Linked DNA regions of Homo sapiens. The protein of the gene in region 1 purifies or fractionates together with the protein of each later gene. This does not show direct contact. Each region holds a gene or a part of one and is shown in the gene's direction. Other genes may lie near its edges.

Region 1 (6,186 bases):
CAAGCAAACAACTGTATAACACGTTTATCTGTCAGTTGTTGTTCAAGGGACTTTCCATGTGTTAAGCAATTGGTTAGTAATAGAACATCTGTAGTAATTCTACAAAGCAAGTATTCTTCATTATCATCCCATTTTACAGACTAAGAAATCAAATGTTGTGGGCTGAATTATATGCTGCAATCCTAAACCAAATACCTCAGATGTGACTGTATTTGGAGATGAGTCCTTTAAAGAGGTAGCTAAGATTAAAAAAAAGAAAAAAGCCATTAGGGTGTGTCCTAATCTAATATGACTGGTGTCCTTTAAAGGAGTGATTAGGACAGGGACACATATACAGGGAAGACCATGTGAGGACATAGGGAGAACACAGCCAAGTGCAAGCCAGCGAGAGAGACTTCAGAGTGAAACTAACAATGCCAACATCTTGGTCTTGGCCTTCTAACCTCTAGAATGGCAAGGAAATAAAATTCTGTTGTTTAAGCCACACAGTCTGTGGACTTCGTTATGGTAGCCCTACCAAACTAATACACCAAGGCACAGAGTAACTTGCCTAAGCTTACATTGCCAGAAAACGTGAACTCAGAATCTGAACCCAGGGACTCTGGTTCCCGAGAATATGTATTTAATGATAAGAAATGTTCTCTGTGCTGTCCAATATGGTAGCCACTAGCCATATGTGGCTACTGAGCACATAATATGTGGCTAATGCAAATGAGGAGCTGAATTTTTCATTTAATTTATATAAAAATAAAGTTAAAATTAAAACAACCCCATGTGGCTAGTGGCTACCATATGGACATAGCTTTATACTATTTCTAAGTACATCACTTAAGATTTTTGCAGAATTTTCTAGAAATCTCGTCTGTGCACTCTAAAAACATGCTCTATCTTTGTTCCGTATCCCTGCTGTATTTGATTTTTTTTTTTTTTTTTTTTGCAGTCCTTTCTGATTTAGCCCCCGTTGCCTGGTCTCCTGCTGAGGGGGAGAGGGAACAGGAAGAGTGAGTGAGCTGGCTAACTTCCAGAATCCTGGGGCCTGGGCAGTGCAGGGTCGTTGGCGTTCTGCTCTAAGCTTAAGGTGTTAGCCAACCAAATGCCAAGCAGCACAAACACTGAGTGACATTTTCAGAACTATTAATATTTCATCAGAAATGATCACTTTTCCTTTAAATACACTATTTTAAAAGGTTTTCTACATTCTTAACTATAATTTTATTCAGTCTAGGCCCTCAGAATTTTCCCCAAAGGAACACATCTTCAATTTTGTAATGAAAATCAAAGGAGAATGAAGCTCAGATTTCAAAATTTAGAGTAAACATTTCCAGGAACTCAGCCCCTCTGTAAAGAGCAAGGTTGCGTATTGGGCACCTACTGTATACCAGGCACTTTACATACAGTATACCATTAATTCATCCAACACATATTTTTTGAGTGCCTACTATGTGCCAGAAACATGATCCTCATAATTTATTAACACCATTTTACAGAAAAGGAATTCCTCTCATCCTTCTCAAATTTTTCTCCTCAAAGAAGTCGGCCTGGACCACCATGGAATATTGCCTCCCCTCTTCTCCCCAGTGCCTCACTTTGTTACTAGGTTGGTACAAAAGTAATTGTGGTTTTTGCCATTGCAAGTGATGGCAAAAACCGCAATTACTTTTGCACCAACCTAATAGTTATTTTCCATCAGAGTCCCATTGCATCTGTAATTATTGCTGCTTTACTCGCTTGGCTGGTTTGCATCGATCTCTCCTCGCTAGTATACAGGCTCCAGGAGAGCAGGGACCATGCCATTTTTGCCCACCCTTATGCTTCTTCAGTGCCCAGCAACTCATCGGGCACAGAGGAGGGGTTGCATCAGTACTGGGGGAATTATGAATGGGGATGGGAGAAGTTCAGAAAGTTCTTAAGGTCACACAGCTCGGAAATGAGTGTCAGGATTCAACCCAGCCCTGCATTTATAGACTGCCATCTTCCTCTATTTGTGTCCATTCTTCTTTCTTCCGTCTCCACCCTCTTGCTTTTCCTTTTCAGGGGAATTGCTAGAGAAGCAACCCCCTGACTCTCGGAACCAGAAAGTCTCCCTCAGCAGAGGTACTGTGTCAGTGCCCAATTGAATGAAGCCGCTTCAGTGAGGGTAGGGGCCTGTTGATCAGCAAACAGCTAACTTAGCCCTTCTCCCTGCACCTCGGACCTCCTACTCCTGCTCCTACCCACCTACTGAAGCTGTCTCAGTGGTCAAGGGCTAGATCAGGCCTAGAGTGCTGGGGTCTGAGTCTCAGCTTCCCTTTTCTCAGGGGGCCTTGGACGCAATCCCTTATGACTTTGAGATTCGCTTTCCTCCCGTGTAGAACGATAATAAAAAGTGGTACTAATTTCACGAGCTTTAATAGGATTGAATGTGAGCCCAGCGCTTGGCACAGGGCAAGCGCCCCATAAAATGGCAGTTAGGATTAAAATCGAGGTTGCCGGGGGACCCCCAGGCAGGAGCTGAGATTTGTGTGGAGCGGCGAAGTGGGGCGGCGGCGCGTTTGGCTTTGACTTCTGATCCCCCGAAGCGCTCTGGGGTCCTTTGGGCCCCACCCCCACCCACCCCACCGGCGGGTCTTGGGCTCCGAACCCAGGGCGCCCCGCGCACCGAGCCGTTGCGTTTGAAACCCACAGAAAGAATTCCCCCGCTCGACGACGGCGAGGGTGTGGGAGCTACTGGCAGGCAAATTGGTGGGAGCCGCCCGGCCCAGCCTGCCTTGCCGAGTCAGCGCGCTCTTGAGCCGCTGGGCCCTTCCCGGTGCCCGCCTGGCAGCGCGGCGCGGCTGGGGCAGGGGTCTGCTGGGGGCCGGGGACTAAGGGCTGTGGGCCCATCCACACACGCCTCATCCCTTCTTTCCGGGGGCAGCAGAGCAGCAGCGGGAGACCGGGAGCAGGAGGGGTAGGGCGAGAGAAAAGCAGGACCTGGGCCGGGGGTGGGAGTCGGGCCGTTGACGCTCGCTCTGCGAGGGGCTCCCTGGGAACGCCCAGGCGAGCGCCTCCTGCGGGGCCCCGCCCCCCGAGTGCCTACAATGGTGCCAGGCCCGCACCCAGTCCTCCGCGTGGCTTAGCGGGACAGCATGGGCTGAGCCCAGGCGCCGAAAGTTGTCACGGCGGCGTCGCAAGGGGGCAGTGCCAGGGACTGTGGGGAGAGCCAGCCCTCCCCTTCCAGCTGTTCCCAGATGTCATTCTGCCCGCCCAGGCGCCTGGTTCCTGAGCTCCGCAGCATTCCACTGTTCCTAAGCTACTGGTTTTTGTTGACTTTTAAATATTTTCTTCTAAGGGAGAGGGGGAGGGAGGCAAAAGTCAGGAAAGAGCAAATAAAAACAAATCAAAATAAGCCCTCCCCTCCCCAAAAGAAAGCTGTCCTCCACCCACCCCTCCCACACAAATAGAAGGCCTCTGAACCTAACCACCTTGCTGGAGCGAAAGCCAGACAGAACTGACCCACTTCTGCCAAGCCCCATCCTCATCTCCCTTTCTGGTGAATGAGGGGTGGTGGTGGTTGTGTTCTAGCCCTGGGTGGACAGAGGGGCTTCCAGAAAGAGAGGAGGAGGATGGCCAGCGGGAATGGGCTTCCTTCATCCTCGGCCCTGGTGGCCAAGGGCCCCTGCGCCCTGGGCCCATTCCCCAGATACATCTGGATCCACCAGGACACACCCCAAGACAGCCTAGACAAGACTTGCCATGAAATCTGGAAGAGAGTTCAAGGCCTGCCTGAGGCCTCACAGCCCTGGACCTCCATGGAGCAGCTCTCTGTCCCTGTGGTTGGAACTCTAAGAGGCAATGAGCTCAGCTTTCAAGAAGAGTAAGTACCCCCCTACTCCATTGGCAGCAAGGGAGGAGGGAGGAGATGAAGTCTGACCTTCTGGGGGAATGTTCTGGCCCACTGTTGAGGCTGGTGAAACCCTAAAGGCTGTATATTGCCCCCTCCATGGTCCTTTGTCCAAGCTTTATAGAAGAGCTGACCAAAGTTCTGAAGTTTTGTGGGTGAAGAGTCAGATTAGGGCTATATTCCAGGCTGCCTCTTCACCAGCCCGTTAAGCAGACATTTCTCATCCTAAACGCATGTGAATCTGAGGTCCTTGAAAAACCACCCTAGCTAAGGCTAAGGGTTATATGGCTTGTGGCTTTCCCCAGAAGCAACTAGAAGATCCTTCCCCTCTCCCACCTAAAGGCTAGGCATTCACATGGATGAGTCTGATGGTTTTAAATCACATCTGGAATTCCCTAATACAGGGAGCAGCTGTCCCATTCAGCCTCCACAGAAGCTGCTGCAAGAGCACACATCAAAATATTTACTGGGAAGGCACTGACATATTCAGAGGACATAATAGAAAATTAAAGTGCGGGAAGATGGCTGTAAATAGCCCGTTTCCGGGATGGGAAATCCTGTGTCTGGGAAACACAGAGCTAAGTGTTTCTCCATCAGGGCAAAGTTGGGCAGATATTGTTGAGGATGGATATTCGAAAGGAAAGGAAGGAGCAGAGAGGAAAAAGGGAAATTAGGAAAAGAAAGTAAATCTGCTGTGGTTATTAATACCGCCGTTGAGCACTTACTTATTTCACGTTTTGCATCTTCAAAGTGGACTGTAAACTTAATTAATGTTCCCAGAGTCCCTGTGAGGCAGGTATTAGTGTCCCCATTTTACAGATGGATTAAGTGTTAATAATTAAGAGCTAATTAAAGACTAACCGATAATTAAGTGTTGCCTGCTCCAACACATGCTACAGCTCAGTTCAGAGATGCTCTGGAGTTGGGGAGCCATTCAGGCATTTATCAGCTGCCTCGGGTTTCAGGGATGCCTAAGCAAGAGCTAAGAAGAAAAGCAAAGTGTAAATGACACCCAGCTCTACACTACCTGCTGTCCCTCTGTGGGCTCATTTACTTACTGCAGATGAAGGTGGAAGGCACTTTGGCTAGTCCTGCCTCCCTGCCCTGTGCTCAGCATGACAAGGCTCAGACAGGAATGGCCCATCTACAGCTAAAATCCTGCTGTCAGGCCCTTCAGTGGCACTGAGCCCTTCTCCCCTGCTCATTGCCATCTGCTCTGGGACAGGGCCTTGGCAGGAGGGCCCATGGGGCTGTGCTCTGCTCTCAATGGCCAAGAAGCTGATTGTCCACTTTGTGGACCAAGGGTCAGTAGCAATTTCCAGTAGATGGCATCCTCTTTGCCAGGTCACACAGAGTTAATGGAGACAGACTCGACTTCCAGTCTGCACTTGGCTGAAAATTGAACTGGTGCACCTTTGGCCAGCTGCTTAACTCCATTTGGCCTTTACTTCCTCATTTGCAAATTGAGGGTGATATGTGCTGCCTTGTCTACCTCAGAGTTGATAATGAGGATCCAATGTGATGGGAGACAGGGAAATGAAAGATGCATTATACAAATCAGGCTGCTCTTAACATGTACTTCTTCAGGTTGGGATTTGTTGTTGTTGTTGTTGTTTTTGTTGTTGTTGGCTTCAATCTGGGGTTCACACTATGCTCCATATACCTCAAGGTGCTTCAGGGGTCACTGTGGAGTCAAGTGGGCTGGTTGCTGGGCCCCAAAATCCATTTCAGCCAGAGCTGTTTAGCTTTTATCAGTTTTACTTACTAGAGTTCTGAGTAGGGCTGAATTTGAAAAACATGTTTCTGCTATTGAGAAAAGAGATAGGAAACCAATGACTTAGACGAATAAACGACATCCTAATTGTCAACCAAATAGAACACAATGAGCTATTCTTAAAATAAAGGCGGTGTGCTGGTGGAGTCAGATAACTCTGGTTTCAGATTCCATTTCAGCCCCATGCCATTTGAAGAATTTGTTACTCTTTAATTTATCTAAACTTTGGTTTCCTCATCTGCCAAATGGAGATTAATACTATACATTTTGTAGGGTTGTTGGAATGATTAAATGGGATATTTAAACATTTATGGTAATAATTCAGATTTGTAAAAATTCCTTGCAATTCAGATGTGATCATTTCTTTAAGCTCTACAATTATTGCATGAGGTAGGTACTCTTTTAAACTTTCCATCTCTTTTTACTTTTTATTATGCAAATTTTCAAACACATAGAATAATAATATGGTGAATATCTATGTGTCTATCACTGAGTTTCAATAATTATCACATTGTGCCATTCTGGTTTCAATTGCTACCTCCACCCCTCC
Region 2 (3,500 bases), on another chromosome or scaffold:
GAAATGTGTTCCTTCTGGTTTTATAATGGTCACTATCTTAACTTTTATACTTTGTGGAAGACTTGAGTATTATTTCTTTCTTGAATATTTTGTTAACTTGCCTAGTAGCACTTAAGATGTTATTTGTTTTTTGTTGGTATTTGGGATGATGGGTTGTATTTGAAAAGCTGTTTTGTTTCTCTAGCTTGTTTTCCAAAACTATAATTTTTCTGAAAATCCCAAAGGCATCCCAGATTAGGCTCACTGCCAATATAAAATGTTTAAAATTTTTTTAAATTAAAAAACTTTTTACATGAACATACACACTTAATTTTTAAAATACCATGTTTTAAAGCAGATAACATTGGATAAATGGATGAAAGTAATATTTAAGAAAGTCTAGAATAAACAGTAATACCTTCATCAAGTATTATTTTATCAGTCTTTAGCAATTTATGTAATTCTGATTCATCTAATTGGGTGTTAGAGGAGTGCTCTGTAGCATTAAACATTAGATTAATTATTCATTTTAATTCTTTTTTAAGAAAGGGTAAACAATTAAATTTCTGATTCTATGATTAAAAAAACTTTTTTAAATTTTTTAGTGAGATAGATGGAACGTTTTCTTCCTCTGGTTGCCTAAATGGAAGTTTTTTAGCTGTTAGGTAAGTGGCAATTCTTTAATATGCTGAAATTTTCAAATTTATTGTCTTAAATAGTATATCAAATTAAAAAATGAAATAATTTTAAATTTTTATTCTATTTTTTTTTTTCTTTTCTGTTTTTTAGCAATGATGATCACTATAGAACAGGTACCAGATTTTCAGGGGTTGATATGAATGCTGCTAGGCTTTTATTCCACAAACTTATACAACCTGATCATCCGCAGATATCTCAGCAGGTCTGTTTTTAAAGTATTATGTTTACAGTATTATCTGTTGATTTTGTTTTCTTTTGTTTTATACGTTTATAGCCTAATTTACTTTGCAGTTTCACAGACTCTTACGATGTGCTTTTAAAATAAGATTTTATTTTAAAGCATTTGTAATTTAGCTGTCAAAGATCTATAAATCTTTTCAGATGTTTGAAGCAGACCCTGAATTACTTAACATTACCACGTTGCTTAAGTTTGTGTATGGTTATAGAGGTAGAGAGTTTAAATTGAGACTTGTACACGTGATTTTTTAAATTCTCCAAGTAATGCTTAGGCATTAATTTTCATTGTGCTCCAAAGTATATTCATTGTAAGACATTGTCTTTCTTTTTTCTTCTTCACCATTTCATATTTGCTGTAGTGCAAAATTTTCCTTTTCTTTCTTTTCTTCCTGCCTTCCTTTTTTTTTTTTTTCTTTGAAAGTGTATTCATTTTAAATGAAGTAGGTTTTACTTTTTGTCAAAATATAGGTGGCAGCTAGTTTGGAAAAGAATCTTATTCCTAAACTGACTAGCTCCTTACCTGATGTTGAAGCATTGAGGTTTTATCTTACTCTACCAGAATGTCCCCTGATGAGTGATTCCAACAATTTCACAACAATAGCAATTCCCTTTGGTACAGCTCTTGTGAACCTAGAAAAGGCACCACTGAAAGTACTTGGTAAGAATTCTAATATTTTTTCTTTTGAAACCTTTTCTCTTTAAATGAAAATGCTTCATAAGTTCTTTTGCCATTTGCAGTTCTGCTGCCCTGCTTATTTGACACTGTCTTAGGCAAAAATGAACCTGTTTTTCCTTTTCTTGCTTTTGTCTAGTCTTTTGATTCTAGTTGTTGGAGTTGTTGAAAGAAAAACATGTTAGATATAGAAGTTCAATTAAACATAACAGCAGAGACAGTATTAGGAAAGTTAAAAACTGTCACCCGTATTCCTTTCCCTCATCGCCTTTAGTATAATCTTGCTATTAAAGAAGTAAAGGAGGAGGAACAATTAAAACTGAACAAACATGGGCTTTAAATCTTCTTGGAACCCTGATATAAGCCCTTTATCTTGTGTTTCCTTCACTTGCTAATTTCATGATATTTGATTTTATTTTTCTGCCTATAGACTAGATTTTATTGCTCATCTGATCTTGCACTTCTATCTCTTACTGTTCTGGTTTTTTGGCATAAAGTTTTCTCACTTTAATTTTTCTAATTGTCTAGATTTTATCTCTATTTCCTGGCCTTTATACTTTTTTTGCTACATTTAACCCAGTGCTTTTCTTTCTAATGGTATTTGTTAGATATGTGGAGCTGAGATATATAGAAGTAATAATGTCAGTACAAGAACTTTAAGGCTGAGGGTAAATGGAGGAAGCAACAAGCAAGGGGTAGAATATGGGAATCTGAGGGAAAAAGAGTCAAGCAGGGACTGAAAAGAGTATTGCTTTCCTGTTGTCAGAAGTTTTTGTATTCTTTCTGCCTGCTTCATAGGATTGAAGTGTTTGTACTTAGTAACTACAAATAGTGAATGTGGGGAAGGACCCATATGTTACACTTTACATTGTTCAGCTTCTGTATTTGATCTTCAGGAGTACCTTGCATTTTAAAGGTAGTGGTTCACAATATTTCAACCATATATTAAATTGAAAGATAAAAGTTAGAAAGATCCTTTAGTATTAGAGCAATACAATTTAAAGGATGTTTTGTTTAAAAATTGAAACTGTAATTTTCAAAACATTTTTTAAAAACTGGTTTTAATATTAGGTATAGTGGTGAGTTTTTTATATAACTTAGGAAACCAAGAATATAAATTCAACAAGACTTTCACACTTTATTTTTGCTTTTGAGAGCTTTTCGGACAATATTGTTTAACTTGGTCGGGGGGAGGTTTATAAACCTTACAAATGTTACATAAGATATTGTGTTATATGCATCTTTCTGGGGTTTTCTCAGGTTTAACAACTACTGTTTCAGAAAAAAAGTCAGTATGATTTTGAAAATTGTGATTTTTTAAAAAATTCATTTTATTTGCATGTTCACTTTTTAATAACAGAAAACTGGTGGTCAGTACTTGAACCTCCACTATTCCTCAAGATAGTAGAACTTTTTAAGGAAGTTGTGGTACATCTTTTGAAACTCTACAAGATCGGTATTCCCCCTTCTGAAAGAAGAATTTTCAACAGTTTTCTTCATACTGCATTAAAGGTTTTAGAAATACTACATAGGGTATGTCCAATCATTCCTTTATTTTCCTCTTTCCCCATTCCTATTAACAGATTGATACTGTTCATTTTAACATTAATCTATTAAAGATTTAGATTGGCAAAAACAATGCATATTATAGAAATTTGGAAAAGTTATCTATACTTTCTCTTAAAAGAAGTAATAAACCTGTCCTTTGGAGCTCTGGTCTTACCTGACTTTGTTAGGCATGTATAGATAACTTATCCATAGTTGGGCAGAACAATAACATACTAATGAGTTAGAATTCTCCTTATATTTCCTTATGAAGAATATAATTTGTTAGTTTGCATTATATGGTTTTTGTTAGCTGTAAGTGGTTATCTTGTGAAAGAGATTGGGTCCTAGTTGTAATTATGAACAT

Evidence for each region. Proteins that work in one complex are often made in the same cells at the same time.
Region 2: the proteins of C1orf94 (region 1) and HERC4 purify together in Homo sapiens (affinity purification with mass spectrometry; 2 studies listed by BioGRID and IntAct, with this or other methods). This does not show direct contact.

The regions. Positions count from the first base shown.
Region 1 is NC_000001.11:34,174,275-34,180,460, forward strand, and holds the start of C1orf94 (uncharacterized protein C1orf94), read left to right. Parts: upstream 1-2,632; 5' UTR 2,633-3,515; coding exon 3,516-3,835; intron 3,836-6,186.
Region 2 is NC_000010.11:67,988,284-67,991,783, reverse strand, and holds part of HERC4 (probable E3 ubiquitin-protein ligase HERC4), read left to right. Parts: intron 1-584; coding exon 585-644; intron 645-768; coding exon 769-880; intron 881-1,383; coding exon 1,384-1,573; intron 1,574-2,948; coding exon 2,949-3,121; intron 3,122-3,500. UniProt on the Homo sapiens protein: Probable E3 ubiquitin-protein ligase involved in either protein trafficking or in the distribution of cellular structures. Required for spermatozoon maturation and fertility, and for the removal of the cytoplasmic droplet of the spermatozoon.